Linked DNA regions of Homo sapiens: region 2 is linked to region 1. The links come from fine-mapping of genetic effects on gene expression. A gene starts in region 1. The other region holds a variant in brackets. All regions are shown on one strand. Distances are from middle to middle.

The links. PIP is the estimated chance that this variant, and not a neighbour inherited with it, causes the effect.
Region 2: its variant is fine-mapped to the expression of USP49 in whole blood (TOPMed, PIP above 0.99).

What each region holds. Positions count from the first base shown.
Region 1 is chr6:41,889,600-41,902,135 of GRCh38, forward strand. USP49 (ubiquitin specific peptidase 49) reads right to left here and starts at 5,776. Exons shown (of 8, transcript NM_001286554.2): 1 at 5,725-5,776; 2 at 2,195-2,276. RefSeq lists enhancers at 4,535-5,049, 5,984-6,173 and silencers at 5,614-5,853, 5,642-5,934.
Region 2 is chr6:41,929,332-41,941,867 of GRCh38, forward strand. It overlaps BYSL (bystin like), which reads left to right. Exons shown (of 7, transcript NM_004053.4): 3 at 801-939; 4 at 1,304-1,437; 5 at 2,065-2,225; 6 at 2,397-2,499; 7 at 3,030-3,715. The coding sequence ends at 3,375. CCND3 (cyclin D3) reads right to left here and starts at 12,477. Exons shown (of 5, transcript NM_001760.5): 1 at 12,121-12,477; 2 at 11,039-11,254; 3 at 7,904-8,063; 4 at 7,228-7,364; 5 at 5,621-6,776. The coding sequence starts at 12,318. The coding sequence ends at 6,609. RefSeq lists enhancers at 8,948-9,763, 9,764-10,579, 10,160-10,454, 11,536-11,665, 11,708-12,536 and a silencer at 12,176-12,536. The variant C/A (reference allele first, on the strand shown) is at 6,729.

The DNA.
Region 1 (12,536 bases):
AGAGACCTACAAACCCATCATTCACAAGTGAAAGAATCTCAGAATGTACAGGAGACAAGACCATAAAAACACAAAATCCACTCTAAACCCAATCTTGAGATTCCTTTGCTTCAAGTATTTGACTAAAATTAAACACAAACTAAACTTTTTGAAATACTCAAAACATTCTCCCCTTTTCTTCTTTAAAATTAAGGTCTTCATATGCATTTTCTTCAATTTGACTTGTTTAAAAATACTCAAGTGAGAGAAAATGATAAAGCAAATGGGGCAAAATGAAAAAAATTGGTGAAACTGAGTAAGGGTATACAGAATTTCTTGTATCATTTTTGCAACTTTTCCATATGTTTAAAAAACTGCAATAAAATCAAGAGTCACCAAAAAATAGAGTATTAACAACAGAAGTTCTCTCATAGGGCTGTTTCAAATTTCAAACAATTCACATACTCAGTTAATGCTGGACACCTAGTAAACACTCAGTAATTGTTAATTATTTTTTTTAAATGAGTGGATCAGCTGGGCACGGTGGCTCACGCCTGTAATCCTAGCACTTTGGAGATCACTTGAGGTCAGGAGTTCGAGACCAGCCTGGCCAACAAGGTGAAATCCCGTCTCTACTAAAAATACAAAACCTTGGCTGGATGTGGTGGTGGGTGCCTGTAATCCCAGCTACTAGGGAGGCTGAGGCAGGAGAATCGCTTGAACCTGGGAGGCGGAGGTTGTAGTGAGCCAAGATCATGCCACTGCACTCCAGCCTAAGCTACAGAGCAGTACTCCAACTCAAAAAAAAAAAAACGAGTGGATCAATTTACTTAACCAATTAAAGTATTAGGAGGCCAGGCGCGGTGGCTCACATCTGTAATACCAGCACTTCGGGAGGTTAAGGTGGGCAGATTTTTTGAGCCCAGGAGTTCGAGACAAGCCTGGGCAACATGGTGAAACCTTGTCTCTACAAAAAATACAAAAATTAACCAGGTGTGATGGCACACATCTGTAGTCCCAGAGAGGTCCAGGCTGCAGTGAGCTGACGTGGCGCCACTGCATTCGCCTGGGCAAAAGAGCAAGATTCTGTCTCAATAATAATCATAATAATCATAATAATAATATATGGGGAAATTGGTATATCACTTAGGCACACATAAAGAGAAAATACTAAAAAATTAGTGAGGGTATAAACAGATTTTGCTTATGGATATTTGCACTGAAATCTGAAATCAGAAAAAATCCATTTTTCTTCAAACAGCAATAATCTTTCAACTATAAATGTGTCATAGTATATAACAAGTCCAGGGCAGTTTTCTAGCTAAAAAGGTGGATGGGGAATCTGCAATGCAATAAGGCATTTTTTACTGGTTTGGGTTTGTTTTGTAAATACAATTTTGGAATGAAAAAATAGAAGCATGCAACAACCTTGATGTAATCTTTACATTATACATAATCGTTACGGTGTTTACCCCAGGTTCCTCATCTAGAAAGGAACTGGATAAAAGGTTAGTAACAGGACTACAGGGATAATTTTTAAAGATTGGCAAACAAGACTTGTTAAGTGTTGAATCTGAAGAAGAACTTGGTGAGGGAGAACTTCACAACAGGCAAGCCAGAGGCAAAACCAGAGCACAGACTCTGCTGGCAAAATGCAAAGGCTGGAATCCCATCCCACCACTTGGTAGAATTCTAGCTTTTGAACTAAAATAAAGATTAAATGTATCACTGGGTTACAAAACATAGTATTATTTGTAATATAAGATAATTACCAAATAAATAGTTGTAGGAATGTCTGAGTATAACCTTGGGCAAATCATTTAATCTCAAGGACCCTCTATTTCATCACCTGTAAAATGAGAATAGTAATAGTACCTACCTCACAGGATTGCCATTGAGGAGTAAACAAGTTACAATTTGCAGTGCTTACAGAAGTATCTGGCACAAAAGCATTATATGTGTGTTGGCTACTATTATTAAGTTTATGAAGAACTAAGGTCTTATAAATACAAAAGTACACAGGTATTTTTTACTCAAAAATTGAGAATGGGGCAAGAGGAAACAAACACATATATAGCATTAAACATGTGCTGGTTGGAGAGAAGGCAGACTCTCCTGATAGAGAAATTATTAAATGCTTGCAAAGATTATCTACAGAGGTTACCACATTACTGCTGAAGATTTGTTTTAAAAAATAGGATAAATTTTTATCTACCTGGAATGATTTAAGTGGGATATTGACTGGAGTTGCAGGATAAACTAGAGGTCCTTTCAAGGTCTCTTCCCATCCAAAGAATCTACGGTTAACCAGGAAAACATTTAATTATGTACAGCCTAATAAATCTAAAAATATAAACTTAAAAGCTTTTGCTTAGCAAATAAGATTATAACCAAAATAAAGTTAAATTGGGTAGAACTGTACTTGATGAACAAATGAAAATAAAGCTTAAATTTATCATTGGAGTCCTTATTGATAAATAGTATTATCTCAATTTTTAAAAATCCATTTTCAGTTTTAGAAATAGCGACTGAGAAATAACCATTGACAATGAGACTCAGTGGTTTAGCACACTAAGGCCGTTGCATACAGAAACAAAAGGCAGGACTCACTCTTTCCCTTGGCTGATCTTACAGTTTATATTTCCTTCTTTACCAATATCAAATAAGTCTATAATCACTTATATAAAGATATTGAGCATTAAACAATTACAATTACATTATAAACATGGCAATACCATACAGAGTACGTCCTACTACTAACGCCAGCCCAAACACATCTATAAAAAGAATATGCACACACATCTCACTGAAACAAGTGCCTCATATCAAAGTTATTCTTCATCTTGAAAGTCAACATTATCAAACTAATCCTTTTAAAATGTAGTGGCAAAAATAGTAATTTTTACCAAGATCCTCTGTTAAATTGCTAAATACATCTAGTAACCTTGAACACTTGCTTAATACAATCCAGGAAACAAACCATAAACTAAATACTATGCCACTAACACAGTAGCTGAATGCAGAAAGAGTTTTCTAAATTATACATTAACCATTGTTGCTCAAATCCACAAATCAAAATCTAATCTTTGTTAACTACTACAAAAGTCATAAACCTAATCTTTGTTATTTATACAAACACCAGCAAAAGTGTCAATCCAAAATTTACCCAACTTTGAAAAAAAAAGTATCTTTGTGCATCTGAGTGTACACAATGAAATAACCCCAAAGAAGATTCTCAACAATTGTTTGAATTTTTCCCTAAGTAAATCATATGCTATCCTTTGGCACCATCAAATGCAAAACAAATATTCATTCATATTCTTAGCTAAATGTAAAAGCTTCTGAAAAAAATCATTAAAACAAAATTCTAAGTAAGAATAACCAAATTTTGCCCCAAATTTCTTATCTTCCTTTTCATTTCTAAAGGTGTCTTAAAAATCAAAAGCTTCTAGAAAATTAGTATTAATCTGGCCTTCTTTATTCATAACCATAAAACACGAAAGGCAGTGGAGCTGTCCAAAGACCAAGCTTGCTGCAGTATTATCTTACAGAGATGTTTTTCCATCAAAATTACTCATAAATTTATTTGCCCTAAAAAATAAGTCTGCTACTCTAAAATCCTCCACTACTCTACAATTCTCCCTTTCTTTATGCCATTTTGTTAAATGGGTGAGTTACCAACTACAGCATGAAACGTCCCGCACAAAGCTAAAGGCAGCTCAGGAACTCAAAGCCCTCAGCTCTGATTTAATCTCTCCCCCAGTAAACTTCCTTGGTTGGTTATCTGCCTTTCTCTGAAATGATTTCTTAACATTCTCCAGCAACTGAAAACAATAAGCAGAAATCTGGTTGATTAATCAAAAGAAACAGATTCTCATCTTTCTCTATCCCAACAACAGTGCGTTCTCCATTGAAAATGAAAATGCTGTCCATAAAACACAGCCCAGCACTTGTCAGGTGCAACACTCCTACAACACTAAAACTATCACATCACACGAGTACACCCTAAATAAGCACACCCTTTCCCCGAATTATCACAACACTAGTGAAATGCAGAGGTTTTCAACACCCAGAGTTTATACTTTATCATCCATACAAGAAAAAAATCAAATCAAAATGAGTCTCATTTCTTCAAAGTGGACAGGAAAGTCAAATCAAAAGCAATGAAGGGTGGAAGCAGATTCAAGATTTCTTGAGAGAAAGAGGTTTCTGGAATTTCCTACTTTTAGGGACAAAAGGATTCACAGTTTCAACACACAGTTCTCTCCTCAACAAAGAATTCCTTTCCTGCACCCCCCACCTCTGCCCTTACTTTTTAGTCTTTACCCCTGTCTCTAGGTCCCCTTTCACTCACCATGGTTCCTCGTCTTCTGCACCAAAGGCTCTCTTACACTTGATCTTTCACTACAGCATTTCTGCCCTGACCCTTGCAGACCTTCTGGAGCAACTCCCCATAACACGCACATTCGATTCCCACCCCCCTGCAGTCTACCCCAGTTCTACATCCATCAGGACTCCCCCAGCTTCTCTTAGCCCCCTCTCTTCCCTTACTCCCCATCTCATCCTTTAAATTCTGGGGCCCATCTCTTCCTGCTCCTCTCACCATTTGCTTTTAGCCCTGTCTCTTTACCTCACTGTTTTCACCTTGGATCTTGCTGAACCTCTTCAATTAACGTAATTACCCAGTTATCCTTGTCCCAGATGGCCATCACTTCTTACACCCTAACTCTAGTCTCCTTTCAGCTCTTCTGGTCCCAGAATCGTCCTACAGACACCCATCTCTTATCTGTTTCCTTTCGCCCTTCCACCACACTCTTATTCCTGACTCCACCTGGTTCCAGTCCAGGTCTCATTTGCCCTCCCTCACTTTACAGAATTTACATCCATCGCCCACCCACTAACCCATTCCTTTCTCAGAACCTCGCCAGCAGTTCCCACCACACCGTTGGTCCCAGTCCTTCAGCTCATCTCGCTCCGCACTAGTTCACACCCTCGTCACGTCTGGCTCTTAATCACTCTCTCTTTCCTACTCCCAACTATTACCCCAGCTCTGCCCCTCCTTGTCTTCCACTTCCAACACTTACCCCGGTACCCCTCACCCCAACACCACCCGCTACGAAGATTTCCCCTTCAAACCCCTGCTCTTACACCTAACCCCAGGATCCCTTTCCCCAGCCCTAACCTCATTCCCTGCCCGGCTTCCTTAACGCCCACCCTGGCTTTTGCCTCCTTCCTATCTCCTTGGCTGGCTTTTTCTCACTCCTCCTCTCCCTGGCTTCTAACCCTTTCTCCCCTTAATCCTCCTCATCTCATTCTCAACCCGGTTCCCCTCATCGCCTCCAAGCCTTCCTTTCCCTCTCCCTTCAACGCTTTTGCCCCAACCCAGCCGTCGCCCACCCCGCCAAAATAAGGCGCCCGCGCGCCCCGACTCCCGGCTCTCGCCTCCCGCCGCCCCCGCCCCGGGCGCCCCCAGCCCGCCGGCGCCGCGGTCCCGCCCCCTGCCGCCGCTCCTCCCGCCCGCGAGGCGCGCGCTGCCTTTGTCGCCCCTCACCCGGTGTGTGAGGATTTTGCTTCTTTAAAGGGGAGGGCTAGTGAGCCGGAGACTCCTATCCCCGCCTCCGAGTCTTAGAATGGGCTCCCTGGCCGTCGCGGCCTCCCCGGCCCCCGTTCCCCCTACCCCCTGGAGCTACCCACTTTGCTGCCTCCCCACCTCCTCCGTCCCCTCCCCCGGCCCCCTCTATTTACCGCCATCATCAGCACGCGCGAGCTGTCACCAGGGCGCGAGACAACCGAACACGGCCCCGCCCCCTGCCCGTCTATTGGCCCGCCCGCTGGAGCCCCGCCCCTCAGGCCCTGCATTGCGCCAACGGCGCAGCGCTGGGCCGCGACCCCGGCACCGGCACCCGTTCCGAGGGTTCGCGCCGCAGGCGCAAAGTTTAGGGTCAGCCACAAACGCGCGGCCGCTTTGAGCCTGGCGTAAGGGGCGGCGGCGTAGGGGGACGTTGTGAATAGCTGGTCGAAGTTTGGTTGAAGCACAGGAGGGTAAATAAGAAGGTTTCCAGACAAAGAGACTCTTAAAGGTACAGACTCTTATGTCTGTCCCTCCTCCTTAAAGGGCCAGAGACGCTCCCGAGCCCATCTCCGCCCCCTTCTTCCCGGGGAACTGTAAAGGTATTTTACATGAGTTTCCCATACTCTTTTCGGTTCACCTTTAACACCTCTCCCCACTGCGAAGGACAAAGGCTTTCTCACTATCCCGTCCGTATGTTTTGTTTTATTCTGTTAAAAGACGTTATTTCTGTGTTGTTCCTAAAGCAGCAGCCCTCAAACCGTGGGGTTTCCGGAGGCAGCGTTTGCAAAAGTTACTATTGGCTCCCAGGCGGGTGAGCACGTGTCTGGCTTTTGCCACAGATGACCCAAGAGAGATTCAGCTGTTTTATGGAAATCCCCCACAAGTTAGAGGATCGCTGCCGGAACTGAAGAAGTTCAGCAGATTGTAAGGCTTGGGAAATAAACCAGACTGACTTGGTAGTGGTCCATTGGGAAACAGAACAGCACCTAAGCTACAAAAGGCTTAGGTTAAGCAGTCTCCTAGGTGCACTGTCTTGAAACTACTTGCGGGGTGGTAGTGGGGGGAGGGGATGGGAGTCTCCCAAAATAAGATCAACAATTTCAACACCCAACACATAGCTAAGGCAGATAAAGACTTACATTTAAATATAAGGACAAGTAAAAGAAACAGACATTAGCTATAGTAGTGGCTCAAGTTACACACCTGTAAACAGGAGAACTAGGTAAGCACAAAAAAAAAAAAAAGAACACCACACACAATAGGAAGGGGGAAACTACAATGCCTGGACCAAGCGCTGTGTAGGCAATTTATTAACAACTTGCACTTTTAAAAGAGGTTTGATAGAAGGAGAGGAAGTGGAGTGTTTCAATTTGGTTTGGTCGGGATTTATCATGAGGTTCAAGGCCTCAGAGTTAGATTCAGAATTTAGCTCTCCCTTTGTCGTCCATCACAGTTAACATAATTCTTTTTAAGGAATTCTTAACATTATAACTCTAATTATATGTCTTATTCCCTTACTCAACAATCCCCAAGAAAATTCTTGGAGAAGAAAGATTGTTACTTATTCAATGTTAGTTCCATAACAAGGTGCTTTTGCTGAGTGAAGAATTTGGGAGCCACTTAAAACTTCCAATGGAAGGGATGCTCCCAGAATAGCAATACAGGAGGAAAAGTTTCTCAGTGATGTGAGCATGTATTAGATCAGTGTTCTCAAAAATGTGGCCTGGAGGCCGGGCACGGTGGCTCACGCCTGTAATCCCAGCACTTTGGGAGGCCAAGGCAGGTGGATCATGAGGTCAGGAGATCAAGACCAGCCTGGCCAACATGGTGAAACTCCGTCTCTACTAAAAATACAAAAATTATCCGGACGTGGTGGCGTGTGCCTGTAATCCCAGCTACTCAGGAGGCTGAGGCAGGAGAATTGCTTGAACCAGGGAGTTGGAGGTTGCAGTGAGCTGAGATCGTGCCACAGCACTCCAGCCTGGCAACGGAGTGAGACTCCATCTCAAAAAAAAAAAAAAAAAAAAAAAAGTGTCGCCTGGAAAGGCCTAGGGATCTCTGAGACCCTTTGGGCTGGGGGGATAGTGGGGTGCCTGAGATCAAAACGATTTTCCTAATAATACTGAGACATATCTGCATTGTCACTGTGATGATATTTGCACAATGATACAAAAGTAGCAATGGGTAAAACTGCTGCCTTAGCACAAATCAAGGCAACTGCACCAAGTTGTGCTAGAGGTCAAGGTATTCTTCACTGCTACAGTAAAAAAACACCTGTTTCAGGCCGGATGGGTGCAGTGGCTCACACCTGTAATCCCAACACTTTGGGAGGCCAAGGCAGGTGGATCACTTGAGGTCAGGAATTCGAGACCAGCCTGGCCAACATGGTGAAACCCCTCTCTCTACTAAAAATACAGAAATTAGCTGGGCGTGGTGGCACGCACCTGTAATCCCAGCTACTCGGGAAGCTGAGGCAGGAGAATCACTTGAACCTGGGAGGCAGAGGTTTCAGTGAGCCGAGATCGCACCACTGCACTCCAGCCTAGGCAACAGAGTGCGACACTGTCTCAAAAAAAAAAAAAAAAAAAACCACCTGTTTCATTTAAGAGGTCTTTGATGAAGACAATAAAAATTGTTTTATTTAAGTACACGTTTATGTGATTAAATGCATGTATGTATGCATCAAGCACTTTTAAGTACAACATTTGTCTTGAGGAAAAGCACTCTTGCAATTTGAGTTTGGAGCTGAATTAATAGCTTTCTTCATGGAACACCGTTTTTATTTGAAAGAACAGCTAACAGACTAGTTGTTCACTGGATATTTGGCAGACATGTTCTTAAAAATAAAGTAGAGCCTGATAGCATTGTCGGTTATGATAAAACTCAAGCCTTTATTTTTATTTTTGGAGACGGAGTCTCACTCTGTTACCCAGGCTGGAGTGGAGTGGCGTGATCTCAGCTCACTGCAACCTCTGCCTCCCAGGTTCAAGCAATTCTCCTGCCTCAGCCTCCTGAGTAGCTGGCACCACAGGCACACGCCACTAACGCCCAGCTAATTTTTTGTATTTTAGTAGAGACAGGGTTTCGCCATGTTGCCCAGGCTGGTCTTGAACTCCTGAGCTCAGGCAGTCTGCCCGCCTCAGCTTCCCAAAGTGCTAGGATTACAGGCGTGAGCCACCGCACCCGGCCTGATAAAACTCAAGCATTTAAGTCAAACAGAATTTCTAACAACTGACTTGTATCTCCCAATGTAAGTTTGATAGCTTCCCATGACTTTTTCTAATAAGACTGGTAGTGGGCCAGGCACGGTGGCTCATGCCTGTAATCCCAACACTTTGGGAGGTCAAGGTGGGCAAATCATTTCAGGCCAGGAGTTCGAGACCAGTCTGGCCAACATGGCGAAACCCCATCTCTACTAAAAATAAAAAAATTAGCTGGGCATGGTGGCGCATGCCTGTAATACCAGCTACTCAGGAGGCTGAGACACAAGAATTGCTTGAACCAGGGAGGCAGAGGTTGCAGTGAGCCGAGATCATGGCACTGCCCTCCAGCCTGGGCAACAGAGCAAGACTCTGTCTCACAAAACTAAAATAAGTCCGGGCACGGTGGCTCATGCCTGTAATCCTGGCACTTTGGGAGGCCGAGGTGAGCGGATTGCCTGAGCTCAGGAGTTCAAGACCAGCCTGCGCAACACAGTGAAACCCCATCTCTACTCAAAATACAAAAAAAATTAGCTGGGTATGGCGGCATGTGCCTTAGTCCCAGCTACCCGGGAGGCTGAGGCAGGAGAATTGCTTGAACCTGGGAGGCGGAGCTTGCAGTGAGCCGAGATGGTGCCACTGCACTCCAGCCTGGGCGACAGAACGAGACTCCATCTCAAAAAATAAAATAAAATAAAATAAAAATAAAAATAAATAAATATGATTTTTTGATACTGTATAATGTGTCAACATTTAGGAGATGTGCAGTGTTTTCCAAATGACCAATGCATGACACTACAAAATCACACATTAGTAAAAGATCCATTCAAAGTGCAAAATAAGGCCAGGTGCAGTGGCTCACGCCTGTAATCCTGGCACTTTGAAAGGCTGAGGCAGGTGGATCACTTGAGCCCAGGAGTTCGAGACTAGCCTGGGCAATATAGCGAGACCCCCATCCCTAAAAAGAAAAAAAAAAAGTGCAAAATAAACCAATAAATATTAATGGAATATAAAAAGTTCACTAATATACTTTGAGGTTCCACATTGCAACTAACCTTTAGCAGAGTTTTGATAGCATCAAAGAATATCCACAATTATCTGAAAAAGTTATGAATATATTTCTCCCTTTTTCCAAATACACATCTGTGGGAGGCTGAATTTTCTTCATATTCTTCAACCAAAATAACATTGAAACAGACTGAATGCAAAAGCAGATATGAGTATTTCACAGTCTTCTATTATGCCAGACATTCAAAAGATTTATGAAAATTAAAAACAATGCTACTCTTCTCAAGAAATTTTGTTTGGAAAAATAATTACTTTTCCTTAAAAATATTTTATCAGCCAGGCACAGTGGCTCATGCCTGTTATCCCAGCACTTTGGGAAGCCAAGGTGGGAAGATCGCTTGAGCTTAGGAAGTTTGAGACCAAGCCTGGACAACATAGCAACACCTCATCTCTACTAAAAATAAATTAGCCAGATATGGCAGTGGGCACAGGTAGTTCCAGCTACTCAGGAGGATGAGGTGGGAGGACTGCTTGAGCCTGGGAGATGGAGGCTGTAGTGAGCTATGATCATGCCACTGCATTCCAGCCTGGGCAACAGACCAAGACCCCATCTCAAAAAAAAAAAAATTAAATAAATATATATATATATATATATTTTGGCCAGGAGCAGTAGCTCACGCCTGTAATCCCTGCACTTTGGGAGGCCATGGTGGGTAGAACACCTGAGGTCATATGGTGGCGGGCACCTGTAATCCCAGCTACTCGGGAGGCTGAGGCACAAGAATTGCTTGAACCTGGGAGCCGGAGGTTGCAGTGAGCCAAGATTGTACCACTGTACTCCAGCCTAGGCCATAGAGTGAGACTCTGTCTCAAAAAAAAAAAAAATTATTTATGTTAACATGTGATGGGCTTACTGTTACCTTTAAGCAAATTAATAAATACTTAGGCCAGGCATGGTGGCTCACACCTATGATCCCAACACTGGGAGGCCGAGGATCACTTTAGCCCAGGAGTTTGAGACCAGCCTGGGAAACACAGCGTGACTCTGTCTTAAAAAATAAAAAATTATAGAAAATTAAAAGACATGAGAGCAGAGATAGCATCTTCTTGCCTACAAAACATTCTTCATATGTATTTTCCTTTGAGCCTCTCAACAACTCTATGAAATATGGAAAGCAGGCATCATTATTCCCACTGTACAGATGAGACTCAGAGACAACAGCTTGATTGAAGTTACGTGGCAAGTTAGGGCCAGTGCTATGGCTAGCACTCAGCCATCTGTCTCTTAAAGACGCATTCTCTTCCCTTGAGCAGGCCACCCCAGAATACCCGTCACCTTCACATTCACAGCCTTGCCTTTCCTACATGACAAAAGACTTCTACTCTTGAATTCTGACTTCAGGACAATCTAGGCTACATAAATGTGGTCCCTAAACTCTCTTTTTAAAAGTCTCCGAAGAAGATTCAGTTGAATTCATATTAATCTTAAAAATTAATCTGTGCTATCTGATGGTGGGGCAGGGGTCTATGTTGGGAAATTAAACAGAGAATGCAAGAGAATTAGGAAACTTTGCCCTAATCATTTCAATAATTTTTTAACTTGATAATTTCATCACAGAGGAAAGGAACTATTTCTCTGCCTCATCAATCACGTTTTTCTGAAAAATGAAGAAGTATATGCATTATGCCAAATTCCATTACAACAGAATACTTGCCAGACCCCATGGAGTGTCATAACAGAAGAGTAACTCTGAAGCCACAGAGGTAGCTATCAAGATTGCTTCATATATATTTACTCCTGCCTATTTTCAAAAGAAAAAGGGGAAACATAGGAAGATAGCAAAAACTCAGTCCATCTTCCCAGAAACTGTCTGAAAGGCCCAAAGGATTGGCTATAAAATGAAGAAGGAAAATCCTCTGGCTTGACACCCAGATGTAAGGTCCAGAAGGCAGGGAAAGATCCTGCTCACAAAAGCTGGCTGGACCAGTCTCAAACCTGCTTAACTTTGTCCTCATACTGTTTCCATTTCAGGATTTGCTCTCCCTTTAGAGACTCTTTTTTGGATCACAGATTCTTTTTCTTTTTTTTTTTGAGACAGAGTCTCACTCTGTCACCCAGGCTGGAGTACGGTGGCAAGATCTCGTCTCACTGCAACCTCCACCTCCCAGGTTCAAGTGATCCATTCTTCTGCCACAGCCTCCCAAGTAGCTGGGATTACAGGAATGCGCCACCACGCCCAGCTAATTTTGTATTTTTAGTAGAGATGGGGTTTCACCATGTTAGTCAAGCTGGTTTTGAACTCCTGACCTCAGGTGATCTGTCCACCTCAGCTTCCCAAAGTGCTGGTATTACAGGTGTGAGCGACCACGCCTGGCCGAGATGTAAGTATTGAATGATGGTCAAGCTAGGTGATTTAAAGAGTTGTTCTAACCAAAAAGACTGATTTGGGAATGCTCTACACAATCATAGTGACTCATCTTGGAGAGATCCCACCCCCAAGAAGTGAGTACTCACAAGCCAAAGACACCAAATTCTCAGGGGAGGCCCAAACTTGTAATGCAATTGGGTTCAGCCATTCCCCATGCAATAGTAACTGGGGTCTGTGGCCTAAGACACCCAGGCAGTAACAGAAATGGAGAGGGAGGGTGTGGCAAGAGAAAGGCAATGTTGGGAGTTAAAGGTATGGGGTTGGAGACCACAAGGCCATATATCAGTCCTGCCTGTCAATTTTTGACACCTGGAGCACATGCTTAGGTGGGGAACTTCTAACCACAAC
Region 2 (12,536 bases), 40 kb after region 1:
TACAGAAGAATAAAAAACTAGCTGGGCCTTGTACTATGTTCCTGTGGTCCCAGCTACTCGAGAGACTGAGGCGGGAAGATCGCTTGAGCCAGAGAGATAGAGGCTGCAGTGAGCCATGATGGTGCCACTGCATGCCAACCTGGGCAACAGAGGTAGACTCTCTCTCAAAAAAAATAAATAAATACACTTCAGCAGCCTCTGAAGATGCTAGTATTATATGACAGCTCAAGGCGATGGTAATTCTGAATCATTAAGATAAGATTATGTTTGATACACCCAACAATACTGTTTAAGGAGGCTGAAAAGAATATAATCAGTCTTAGAAATATTTCCATAGATAACGCTTACTGTGTACTGACCATTCCAAGTAATGAACAGACATTAACTTATTTAATCCTTCCATTAATCTTTTAAGGTGGGTACCGTTATTATCCCTATTTTACAAATGAGGAAACAGAGGCATAGAGAGGTAAAGTAACATGCCCAAGATCATACCAGGGAGTGGGTGAGCCAGGATTTGAACCTGGGCAGACTGACTTCAGAGTTGAGGTTCATAATAACCTCCGTACAACTGCTAGCTTTGTCCTAAATGGAATGACTTTCAGTTCCTTTGCACCCTGCAGTGATTCTGTCTGTGGTGGATGAATGGGCACAGAGAGAGAACTCTAAGCTGCATATCCCAGCAGGATCGCAGTATGGCGGTGCTCACAGGGGACTGTGGGGAGTCTGGAGCTTCCTGGACAGTGACCACAGTGCTCCTTGCCCCCTCTCTCCCCTCCTCTTGGCACTTCCCCTCTTAGGCGCACCCTGGCTGACATCATCATGGAGAAGCTGACTGAGAAGCAGACAGAGGTTGAGACAGTCATGTCAGAGGTGTCGGGCTTCCCTATGCCCCAGCTGGACCCCCGGGTCCTAGAAGTGTACAGGGGGGTCCGGGAGGTAAGAGCTGAGAGGGGAGCCATGGTGGAAGACCCCTTTGGGGGCTGTGGGCTCCTGCCACAGGCTTTTTTGCCTTTTGCCTGCATCACATACTAAAGAAGTCATGGGAGTAGAAAACAGACCTAAGAGGCAGAGTGTGTGGGTTCAGATTCCTGCTCTGCCTGTAAATGACTTGGCATCCTTGGGTCGGTTACTGGAACTCTCACTGGTCATCTGTAAAATGAGCATAATAATGGCACCTCCTTATAGGTTATTGTGGGGATGCAATGAGTTAATATATTAAAAGCACCCAGACAAGTTCCTAGCCCACAGCAAGCTTGCCATATGTGGATGACGATGATTGTTTTACCTCCCTCATCCCTAGGTATTATCTAAGTACCGCAGTGGAAAACTGCCCAAGGCATTTAAGATCATCCCTGCACTCTCCAACTGGGAGCAAATCCTCTACGTCACAGAGCCGGAGGCCTGGACTGCAGCTGCCATGTACCAGGCCACCAGGTAGAGTAGCTGGGGGTTCGGGGGCCTTGGGTTTATAGGTGCAGGCTGAGTTTGGGACGGACAGGCTTTCCTTGCCTCTGGCCCCAGGGCATTTGAGCTTTGCCCCAGGGCCCTCTCTGTGCTACTTTATAGCATCATTTTTCTAGCTTTTCCTGTGTCATTTTTTGGGGCCAAGACCCAGTTAGCCAGTTAGGAACCCTCCGTGATGAATTTCTAGGGGAGAGGCTTTTATAGCTACTGGGATACAACCCTCTGTGATGAATTTCTAGGGGAGAGGCTTTTATAGCCACTGGGATACAACCCTGTAGCAGGACCCTCAGAAGTCTGTGACTGCCCAGGCATGCTCAGGGCTACTCAACTGATGCTGAGTAGCCATCAGTTTGCACGAGCTCTGGCTCTCCCACAGACAAACGGTGCTCCTCATTTGGGTATATCTCATTGCCCCTCCTATTCTCTCTCTAAGCTGATGGGTGTTGCATGCACACAGCTCCCACACATCCCCCACTGAAAGAAAGGTCCCATATTTTACTTTAAAACCTCTTGTATGCACTATCCATGGTGATATTTAATGGGCCGGGTCCAGACTGTCGTGTGAGTTGGAAACTTCCCCCGCTTAACTCCCACTAGGATTTTTGCCTCTAACCTGAAGGAACGCATGGCCCAGCGCTTCTACAACCTTGTCCTGCTCCCTCGAGTACGAGATGACGTTGCTGAATACAAACGACTCAACTTCCATCTCTACATGGCTCTCAAGAAGGCCCTTTTCAAACCTGGAGCCTGGTTCAAAGGTGGGATCCCAGAGGCACGGAAGAAAGGGAAGGGCTGGAGCTTCTATGGGGAACACAGCAGGCCTGGTGTGGGAAATTGCTAGCTGTCCCTGGGCTGGGTGGGAATGCTTCCTGCTGTAACTCCTTTTTCTCATCCTGGGCTCACAGTGGCTGCCCTTTGACTCTCCCTAGGGATCCTGATTCCACTGTGCGAGTCTGGCACTTGTACCCTCCGGGAAGCCATCATTGTGGGTAGCATCATCACCAAGTGCTCCATCCCTGTGTTGCACTCCAGGTAGTATTGCTGGGGGTGGAAGGGGGCTGGTCAGTGGATATCCAGATAGTGGAATTGCCAGGACTTGGGAATGGGCAGAGTGGAGAAGGAGCTAAGGAAAGCCTTGGGTTTGTGCTTGTTTAAGCCAATGAGTAGGTGTATCATTATCCCCCTCAATGTAAGTTGTGCAACAACAGGGCCCGAGTGCCTGGCATAAAGTAAGTTCTCAGTAAATAGATAAACAAATGAGTAGGAAACACAGGAAGAAAGTAGTTAGGGTGGAGACGTTGAGATGTTTGGACCATACTCTAGTTGGTTACTGAAACAAGCAGTCTATGCTAGAGATAGAGATTTGGGTGGATCCCTGTAGAGATGGTGACTGAGGTCAAGGGAGTATAATATGATTGTGTAGGTGAGAAGGTCCCTGGGGAATACCATAGTGTAAGGGCCAGCAGAGGGGAAGAAAAAAAGGGGAAAGCATAGAGGGAGAAGTAGGATCCTTCTTCCAATGTTTTCCCTGCTTACTCTACCCCACCTCCCTTTCCCACTAGTGCGGCCATGCTGAAAATTGCTGAGATGGAATACAGCGGTGCCAACAGCATCTTCCTGCGACTGCTGCTGGATAAGAAGTATGCACTGCCTTACCGGGTGCTGGATGCCCTAGTCTTCCACTTCCTGGGGTTCCGGACAGAGAAGCGTGAACTGCCTGTGCTGTGGCACCAGTGCCTCCTGACTTTGGTCCAGCGCTACAAGGCCGACTTGGCCACAGACCAGAAAGAGGCCCTCTTAGAACTGCTCCGGCTGCAGCCCCATCCACAGCTATCGCCCGAAATCAGGCGTGAGCTTCAGAGTGCAGTCCCCCGCGATGTGGAAGATGTTCCCATCACCGTGGAGTGAGGAAAACAGTCAGCTGTCCTGGCCAAAGGGGTTTGGAAGGACACCAAGACCCCCGTTGGTGACTGAAGATGACACTGAGCTTTAATGGCTGAAGACCCAGATCAGGGCAGTGACAGATCACAGGGACATCTGTGGCTCCCAGTCCAGGACAGGAAGGACTGAGGGTCTGGCTGGTTCCCTCTTCCATTCTAGGCCCTTATCCCTGTTTAGTTCTGAGAGCCAACTTGAGATACCATATGCTAGCATTCCCAGTCCCCAGCTGGGGCTTGGTGTGAGTACTTTTTCTATGGCTATTGTGTCAGGTCACTGTGGATAAAGGCAAAGACAGATATTTATTGAACCTCTGTGTTTGGTGTAGTCAATGGAGGTAGGCATTACTCCTGTTAGTATTTGGAGGACGGAGGACATTCTTGTCCTGTTTATATAGGACCCACCTCCCTTGATCTCCAAGCTTGTTTCTCCAGGCTGCACTCACCTTGTTAGCCCCCAGGGGACACATCCTCTGCCTTCCCCCATCACAGGCTACAGCAGCCAGGAGCAGGTTGTCCAAAGATGGTCGTGTCTCAGCAGTGGATGAAAGGACTACAAGAGAAAACTCCTTGGGGAAAGCAGAGATAAGAGTCAAGAAAGGCCAGAGAGGCTGGGCTTGGTGGCTCACGCCTGTAATCCCAGCACTTTGGGAGGCTGAGGTAGGTGGATTACCTGAGTTCAGGAGTTCGAGACCAGCCTGGCCAACATGGTGAAACCCCTTCTCTACTAAAAATACAAAAATTAGCTGGGTGTGGTGGCGTGTGCTTGTAATCCCAGCTACTTGGGAGGCTGAGGCAGGAGAATCGCTTCAACCTGGGAGGTGGAGGTTGCGGTGATCCAGGATTGGGGCCACTACACTCCAGCCTGGGCCACGGAGCAAGACTGTCTCAAAAAAAAAAAAAAAAGGCCAGAGAATAAGGCTGGGCCCAAGAATGGTTAGATCAGAGCTAGCATCAAACAGGCTCCCTTTCTGGCTTTTCAGCCAATGAAAGCTTTAGACTAGTGACTAGTAAACTAGGGCCAGGTGCCCCTTTTTTTGTTGATTTGTTTTTTGAGACGGAGTCTCGCTCTGTCGCCCAGGCTGGAGTACAGTGGCATGATCTCGGCTCGCTGCAACCTCCGCCTCCATGGTTCAAGAGATTCTCCTGCCTCAGCCTCCTGAGTAGCTGGGACTACAGGTGCGTGCCACCACGCCTGGCTAATTTTTGTATTTTTAGTAGAGACGGGGTGGAGAAGGGGTTTCACCAGGTTGGCCAGGCTGGTCTCAAACTCCTGACCTCAGGTGATCCACCCGCCTCGGCCTCCCAAAGTGCTGGGATTACAGGCATGAGCCACTGCACCCAGCCCAAGTGCCCATTTTTGTGTGGCCCATGAGCTAAGAATGATTTTTCCATTTTTAAATGGGGAAAAAATTAAAACAGTATTTTGTGATAGGTAGGAATTACATGAAATTCCAGTTTCAGCATCCATAAATAGTTTTGTTGGAACAGCCATGCTCACCCATTTACATGTTTTCTGTGGCTGGTTTTGTGCTACAACAGCAGAGTTTAAGTATAATCCTGCTATAACCCTTGTTATTTGCTTTCGAAATTGCGCATTTGTTCCAACCCATTTAATATATTTGGGAACAGTTTGATCATAACGCAGACTTCATGTTTGCTTGTGTGTGATTTCATCCTCGAGAAATAGTAGGTGAATATGGGAAACTGTATCTAGCTGAACCAAGCCTAAGTAGTACACAAAACTCACACCTAAACATGTACCAGCTACCTCACTCATCTCCCCACCTGTGTTGAGCAACCCTTCCGACGTCCACTTCCAAAAGCAAAGTGCATGTCTTCAAGATAAAAGGCCATATTTATTGTGATATAATTTCTCAACCATTTGACATATGTAAAAACCAAGCTATCCTTTTTTTTTAAATGTGTCACTCATTTGAGTGTTGTGCTTCAAGCCCCATTTTTCCCATGAGACCTGTGGTCTTTATTGTGCAATTTTGCATGGCATAGTGATTTTTAGGAACGCATAGGTCACATTATAAAGCAGAACTGACTATATTTGGGTCAGAGACCATGTACCCCACAAAGCCTAAATATCCAGCCCTTTACAGAAAAGGCTCAATGATCCCTGCTTTAGACCATTGACTTCCACCTCCTTACCTCATACAGTGCAGAAATAGACTTACCCACACACCAATCCAAGAAGCCAAAGCCAGTTTTATTTCACAATCATCTTTATTACAGTAGGATGATGGTCCTGGGCCACCAGCCTAAACCTTGCAGCCTTAGGAAAGACCTGTGTCAACAGGGCTTGCCTCCCTCTCTAGACAGGGGCTCAGCCACCTCCAGGGCATCCCTGCTGCATTTTCCCTGCTGGAGGATGGGGCAGAGGGACAATGGGAGAGGAGGGCATGACCCCACCCCAGGCTATAGCAGCTCCTTGGCCACAAAGATCCTTTTGCCAGTAGCAGAAGGGAGGAAAACAGCAACCACCAGGGTTACCACCACTTGTGGGATGGCCAGGACCCCATTATGTCCTCTTAAAGTTGTGCTCAAAGCAATTAATAAATTAAAATGAGCCTTCAGCAGCAAAGCTGTCAATCACACAGGAGAAGCTGAGCAGAAAGCAAAGCAAAGAGGAATTTATAGCTTCTCTGGCTGAGGCCTAGGCCCCTCCCTCTAGGAGCAGCTGTCAGCACGGACTACATAGGGGCCTCCAAAGTACTGAGAGGAGCCATCTAGACTATTCCCCCTCATATGTGTCTATCATGCATTAAATTTTAGAGGGACCCCAATCCAAATGCAATAACCCTAGAAGGGACAACACCTTTAGAAGGCACTAGAGCATTTTGGCAGTTGAAAACATGAGAGCCCCCAGGGGTGGGGGGGGGCGTTCAAAAGGAATGCTGGTGTATGTATCCAATTCTGTCCCATCAGCCTGGCCCACCCCCAGCTAGAGTTGGGAAAGGCGCTGCTGGTCAGATGCAGGGAGGAGGAGCTTGACTAGCCACCGAAATGCAGACATGGCTGGCCGGGCCCCTTAGTGCACACTGCGGGGATGGGTAGGACCAGATCCCTTGGGCTTTGTGAAGGGGGAACAGACGCCCCTTCAGGCTTAGATGTGGTGTGGTTCCTGGAGGCAGGGAGGTGGGTGGCAGCGGCCCCTCCTCTGCTTAGTGGCCACTCCAGAGGGCCTCTCCAGGGCTACAGGTGTATGGCTGTGACATCTGTAGGAGTGCTGGTCTGGCTGGGCCCTTGGCTGCTGGAGCCCCGGGGGGCTTTGGGCGCTGGGCTGGAGCTGGTCTGAGAGGCTTCCCTGAGGCT[C/A]TCCCTGAGTGCAGCTTCGATCTGCTCCTGACAGGCCCGCAGGCAGTCCTGGGAACATGGGAGAAGAGTGAGGAGCAAACACTCCCCCCATAGCATCTGGCAGCAGGTGCAGGGGAAGGACAGCTCCCAACACATGGGGAAGTCTGGGGAGGTTAGGCCACAGCCCGGCCCCAGGAATCGCTCTTTAGTTCTCAGAAACTAGCAAGAGGATGTGGCAAGGGAGTGTGAGAGCAGCCCTGCATCTGACACCAAACCCCCCACCCCCACTCCAGCACACCACTTGGCAAGAAAAGAACCCCTAGGGCCAGTGCCCTTCACCCCACCCAAGATACTTGCTCTTCCCCAGACCAAGGCAGGAGATAAAAAGCCACAAAGCCCCAAGGTTGTGAAACCAGGACTTGGGACCAGGTTGGGGTTGGAGGTTTCCCTCTACTGGAGGCTCAGGGCATAGCACTACTTTATGAATGGAGAGGCTGCTGCCCAGCTACCCAGCACTCACCACTTCAGTGCCAGTGATCCCTGCCAGCAGCTCTGTGAGCTCATCCCCGGACATGGAGCAGGCACCCAGGCCTTGCACTGCAGCCCCAATGCTGCCCGTGGCGATCATGGATGGCGGGTACATGGCAAAGGTATAATCTTGGAGAGGAGGAAAGGGAACCATGAGAGAAGGAAACCTGAAGGATAACGGCCAGCATGGACTTCCGACTCCTTGGAAAGTGCCAGGCAGCATGAGTAGAGCAGAGGACATGCTGGAAAACTCCAGCAGTGGGTGGGGCAAGATATCAGCAAGGGAGGAAGACAGGAAAGAGTATCTTTCCTAGAGATCAGAACCAACTGCCAGTTTCCATAGGTCCCGGGAATAGACAAGACACTCCCTAGTATGGGAACACAACTAGGGCCAAGAGACTGGGGTTCTGTTCCCAACCTGTTCACTGTGAGACCTTGGGCAAGTCACTTCTCTCTATACCCTCAGTGTCCCCACTACAAACTGGAGGGGTCTGAGATCCCATATAGCTGATTATAACCTGCTTTTCTGCATTGAGACTGGGGGCTCAGAGGGGGTATAATTTTCACAAAGGAATTTTGACAGTATAAACCAGAATCTTCAGTTACCTCTCACCCTTATAAGTCTTCTGATTTTTCCAATTTGGCAAAAATGTGCATAGGGCTCTTACCTGTAGCACAGAGGGCCAAAAAGGTCTGGGCATGCTTTTTGACCAAGGCCTGTCGGTCACGGGGCAGAGAGAGCCGGTGCAGAATGAAGGCCAGGAAATCATGTGCAATCACAGCAGCCAGGTCCCACTTGAGCTTCCCTAGGACCAGCACCTCCCAGTCCTGAAAAAGCGGGGAAAGGGTGGGGTCAGTGGCTGGAGAAGTGAAGAGGAGGGAGCAAAGCAGAAGTCTCAAAGTCTCAGGCAGGGAAGCCCATCAAACTTTTAAAGCCCAAGACCCCAGTTCTGTTTCTGATTTTAAGGCCGGGCACCATGGAGTTCAAGGCAGGGAAGAGGAGGAGGCATGTGCTTTGAGCACTTACTGATCATTTACTAGGTGCCAGGACAACATGCTTTACATGGATTATCCCTTTTAATCCTGTCTGGTTATGTTTAAGGGGCCAATAATCCAGGCCTTCTCCTGACTTCATTCAGGGCTCTGAGGATTTCTCCAGCCAGGGCTGAAAGACGGAAGCAGCAGATACCACAGCATCACCATGAACTGGGCTCTCTTCTGGGATGAAGCAGAAAGACTCTCTCAACCCCAAGGATTTGTGAAAGGGGAGATCACCACTAGCTTCCCCTGCAACTCTGCATCCCAGCCAAGTCCACACTTCTTGAATCAACAGAAGGGAGTATGACTCCTCCAATGACAGCCACAGAGCCTTTTCTCAGGTTCCTCAAAGGGGAGATTGCCCAACCCAAGCCACATCCCCTTGGTAGGATATCAGGGATGGGTCCTGAGGTATAGCACCCCACCCCACCCCCTTTAGCTGGAACCCGTAGTGCCCCATGCCACTTGACTTTCAGGAGGATAGGTAGAGGCCAAGCCAGACAGGATGGCTCCAAATGATTCCAGAGGGATCAAGCCCTATCCTCACCTACCCAAGCCTACCTGCCAGTACTAGGTCTCGGGAGAAGGCTGGGAGCTCCACCCCAGTCCACTCGTCATGGGTTCCCAGACCTGGCCCCATTTCTGAGTTGCACACATGAGGATTTCTTCATTGTTTTATCTCAGGAAGGAACTTGTGGGTTTGACTCCTTATTGAGGCAGAAATGGCAACCCCACCCAACCTCTTCCAGGCCCCAGCCACAGCTGTCTCTCTCTTGGCCCCAGCTTAGGTGTCAGCCTCTCAAATCAACCCCTACCCTCACAGAGCCCCAGAGAAAATAGCCTGGCCTGGAGCCAGAAGTGAGACAGATAAATTACAACGCTACCCCTAGTGCATGTCCCAGGAGCCAACTCCTAACTCAGCAGTAAACAGAAGGGACTCAGCTTCTAAGGAAGCATCTGGAAGGCAACTGGGAGTGGGACTCTCCCTATGGGGAGGCAAGGGGTTGTGTTTGAGGGAAAGTGGCCACCTTTCCCCATATCCAGGCAACCAGAGAATCCCAGTGTTAACTGGTGGAGAACACACCCCTGGGAGTGCTTAGCTTCAGTAGGTGGCAGCGGCCATCACATTCCTGACTTTTAAGGCAACCTGGTCTAGCTAGAAGACCCAGGTTCTACACTCATCTGCTCAGTGCGATGCTGAGGCAGGACCTTGCCCTCCTTCCTTGGGCCTCAGCCTCCTCTGCTGCACACGGATTTGGACCAACTGGAGTTCTCAGAGGTCCCTTCCAACCTTGACCTTCTAGGAAGTCTTTTGGGCACTCCACCCCCAGCTCAGGCAGAGGGAAGAGTACTTTTTGCCTGTACTGAAAAACCCTCATACGTGGGCACACAAACCACCTCCATCTTTTCACAAAAAGGAAGTTCCCCTTCTACCTTCCAGCCCCAACCCCTCCAAAAACATCTTGCTCTCTGGCCCTGGAAACTAGCTCCACCTTCAGACTTGCCAAAAACTACCAGATTCATCACAAAGAGCTGTGGCGCCTCCTGGATTCCCAACTCTGGCCTCCTACTCCCATCTCTGAGCTACTTGGCAGGAAGAGGAATCCTGTTCCTCGACTCACAGCAGTCGGGGGCCCCAGTACCCTGGCTTCCCTGCCAGCCAATCACAGCAGCCTGCTTGCTGCCCTCCTCCCTGGGAGATGGGGCCCAGAGACTCCTCTCAGGGTCAGCAGAAGACTTGGCCCGCCACAGAGCAAGGTGGAGGAAGGTGCCAGCTCACCCACCCTCTCCCCCAGCCTCCCTAGGAGACAATCTGCATGTCCTAAATAACCTCTTCCAGATCCAGCAGCTCCCCCGCCTCCTCCCCAGGCTCCTTCTGAGGCGGGACAGAACCGGTGACTTTCCTGCCCGGCCTGAGCCCAGCCCAAGTTTCCAGCAAGAGGCCCAGGGAGCCACTTCCCAAACCACAGGAGTGACAGCAGCTCCCCACAGGGTTATGAAAGACCTTGGTCAGAGAGGGCGGGCCAGGGGAGGGGGCACCATTATCACATCGGAAGCAGATGCAGCTCACCTCCCTGTCTGTCCCTCAGCTTGGGCCTTGGGCTAAGGGGGGAAGAGGGAGCTGTTTCCACCAGGCCCAAAGCAGCTGCTCCAGTTCCTCAGAATGAGGACGAGGAAGGATTAGGAAGAAGCTGTTTCTTCCGGGATATAAGAGGAAGCAAAGAAGGTGGGATGAAATACATCAGCCCTTCCTTAAAGCAATCAGGGCCTGGCTTTAATTGGCTCTGGGAGGCTTTTCTATCACAAAGTCCACATGAGGATAAAGACTCAACCAAGGCAAAACCCCCTCCCCCACATGAAGCACATTCCACTCCCCTACTCCAGTGGGGGTGTGCAGGCATGCCCTTCTGCTGCCAATAAATAACTCATGGTGGCTGCGTAAACCCAGAGGCAAAGTACTAGTGAGTGTAGACATGCAATTTGACTTGTTGCTATCTGGGGGAAAGACCAGGAAGGAGTGGCATCCCCTGGAGGTCAGGAGGAGGGGGTTTAATGCCTGCCTGCAGCTCAAGCCTGGGCGGGAGTGATACTAACCATCACACCACAATGCCCCATCGTTTGTTCCACCCCAATTCCTTTCCCAAAGGTCCTGATCCCCTTGCTTCCTCTCCAGGGGGCAGAAAGCCTCTGATATCTCAAGCTTTCCTTTTCCTGGAAAGTGGGGAGACAATACGTGTCGGGGGTGGGGGGAGTTACACACGCACCCGCAACTGGCGGGGAGAGACAGCGTGGTCGGTGTAGATGCACAGTTTTTCGATGGTCAGGGGCGTGGTCTCGCGCAGCTTGGAGGCCAGCAGCATGCAGACCGCACCCAGGAGCTGCAACTGCGCCTTTCGGGTGGGGACGCAAGACAGGTAGCGATCCAGGTAGTTCATGGCCAGGGGGAAGACTTCCTCCTCACAGCGCTGCTCCTCACATACCTGGGGGAGGGCGCACAGTCACTGCTGGGTCTGGAGCGTGGGGAACACAGCAGCGGGGGGGTGGGAGCGCTGAAGTGAGGTGGGATAGGGAGCAAAAACGGCAGAGAGGGTAAGCTACTTAGAGAGACAAGGACCAATAAAGGAGGAGGATGCGCCCTCCCCAAGGTGACGCCCCCCACTTCCTCTGCGCGGCCTCCTCCCCTCTCCCCTTGACGGGGGAGTGGTAAAGCCAAGGAGCCCTTGCTCACGGAGGATTCCAAACGGAGACTCCCCTCCCCCACAGCGAGGGGAAGTGGGACGCAAGGGTCACCCATGGTAGCCAGAGAGCTGGGACCTCACCCCCATCACCGCCACCACTGCACACACCCGAGGGGAAGGGAGGAGGCTCCTGCCGCTGCCTCCTGCACTTTTCATTTCCCTGTCGGCCGGAACAGGGCGCGCGCCACCCCCATCGCCTTCCCCGCCAGAACCCCGCGAAAGACACAGGAACCGGCTCCCGGGCGGGGGCGGCCGAGCCCAGGGTTTTCCAGGCGCGCTCTCCGGAGAAGGCCGGGAGGCGGAGGGAAGCGGGAGACGCTGTGAGAAGCCGAAGGGGAGAGAGTGTCCTTGGTCCCGTTTGCTCGGCCCGAAGAGAGGCACAGTTAGGGTGCCAAGTGACTGGCAGTCACTGTCGGGAGGAGCCGATTAGGGCTCGGGAAAGCAAGGGAGGCAGCTGGCGTGGGTGCCCTAGTGAAAGGCCAGGCCCCGGGAGTCTTAGCCTCGGAGCATCCTGCAGATTGCTGTGGGGACCGGGATGTCCCGACAGGGCGGCCCCGGTGTGTCCAGACCCGGGAGCGGTGGGGGAGGGGGACGCGTCCGGGCGGTACCTCCAGCATCCAGTAAGCCAGCATCTTCCGCATGTGCGGCTTGATCTCCCGCTGCACGCACTGGAAGTAGGAGGCGCGGGGTACGTAGCGCTCCTCCAGGCGGAGCAGGCTCTGCAGGACACGCTGGTCCCCCAGCAGCCGCGGGTCCGGCCCGGCCCGGGGCGCGTGCCGGGTGCCTTCGCAACACAGCAGCTCCATACTCGGGCAGCGAACAGGCAGGGCGGGAGTGCGGGCTCGCGAGTCCCAAGGCAGGCGACGGGCCGGAGAGCGCGGGGCGCGGGTCTGGCGCTGGCGCTGGCACTGCGCGGCGGATCCCCAGCCCGCCCGCCGCCCGCGCGCGCGCGCCGCTTCCCTGACAGGCGCCCCGCCCCTCGCGACGATGTAGCAACCGTGGAATGCTCGGACGTCGCAACGCT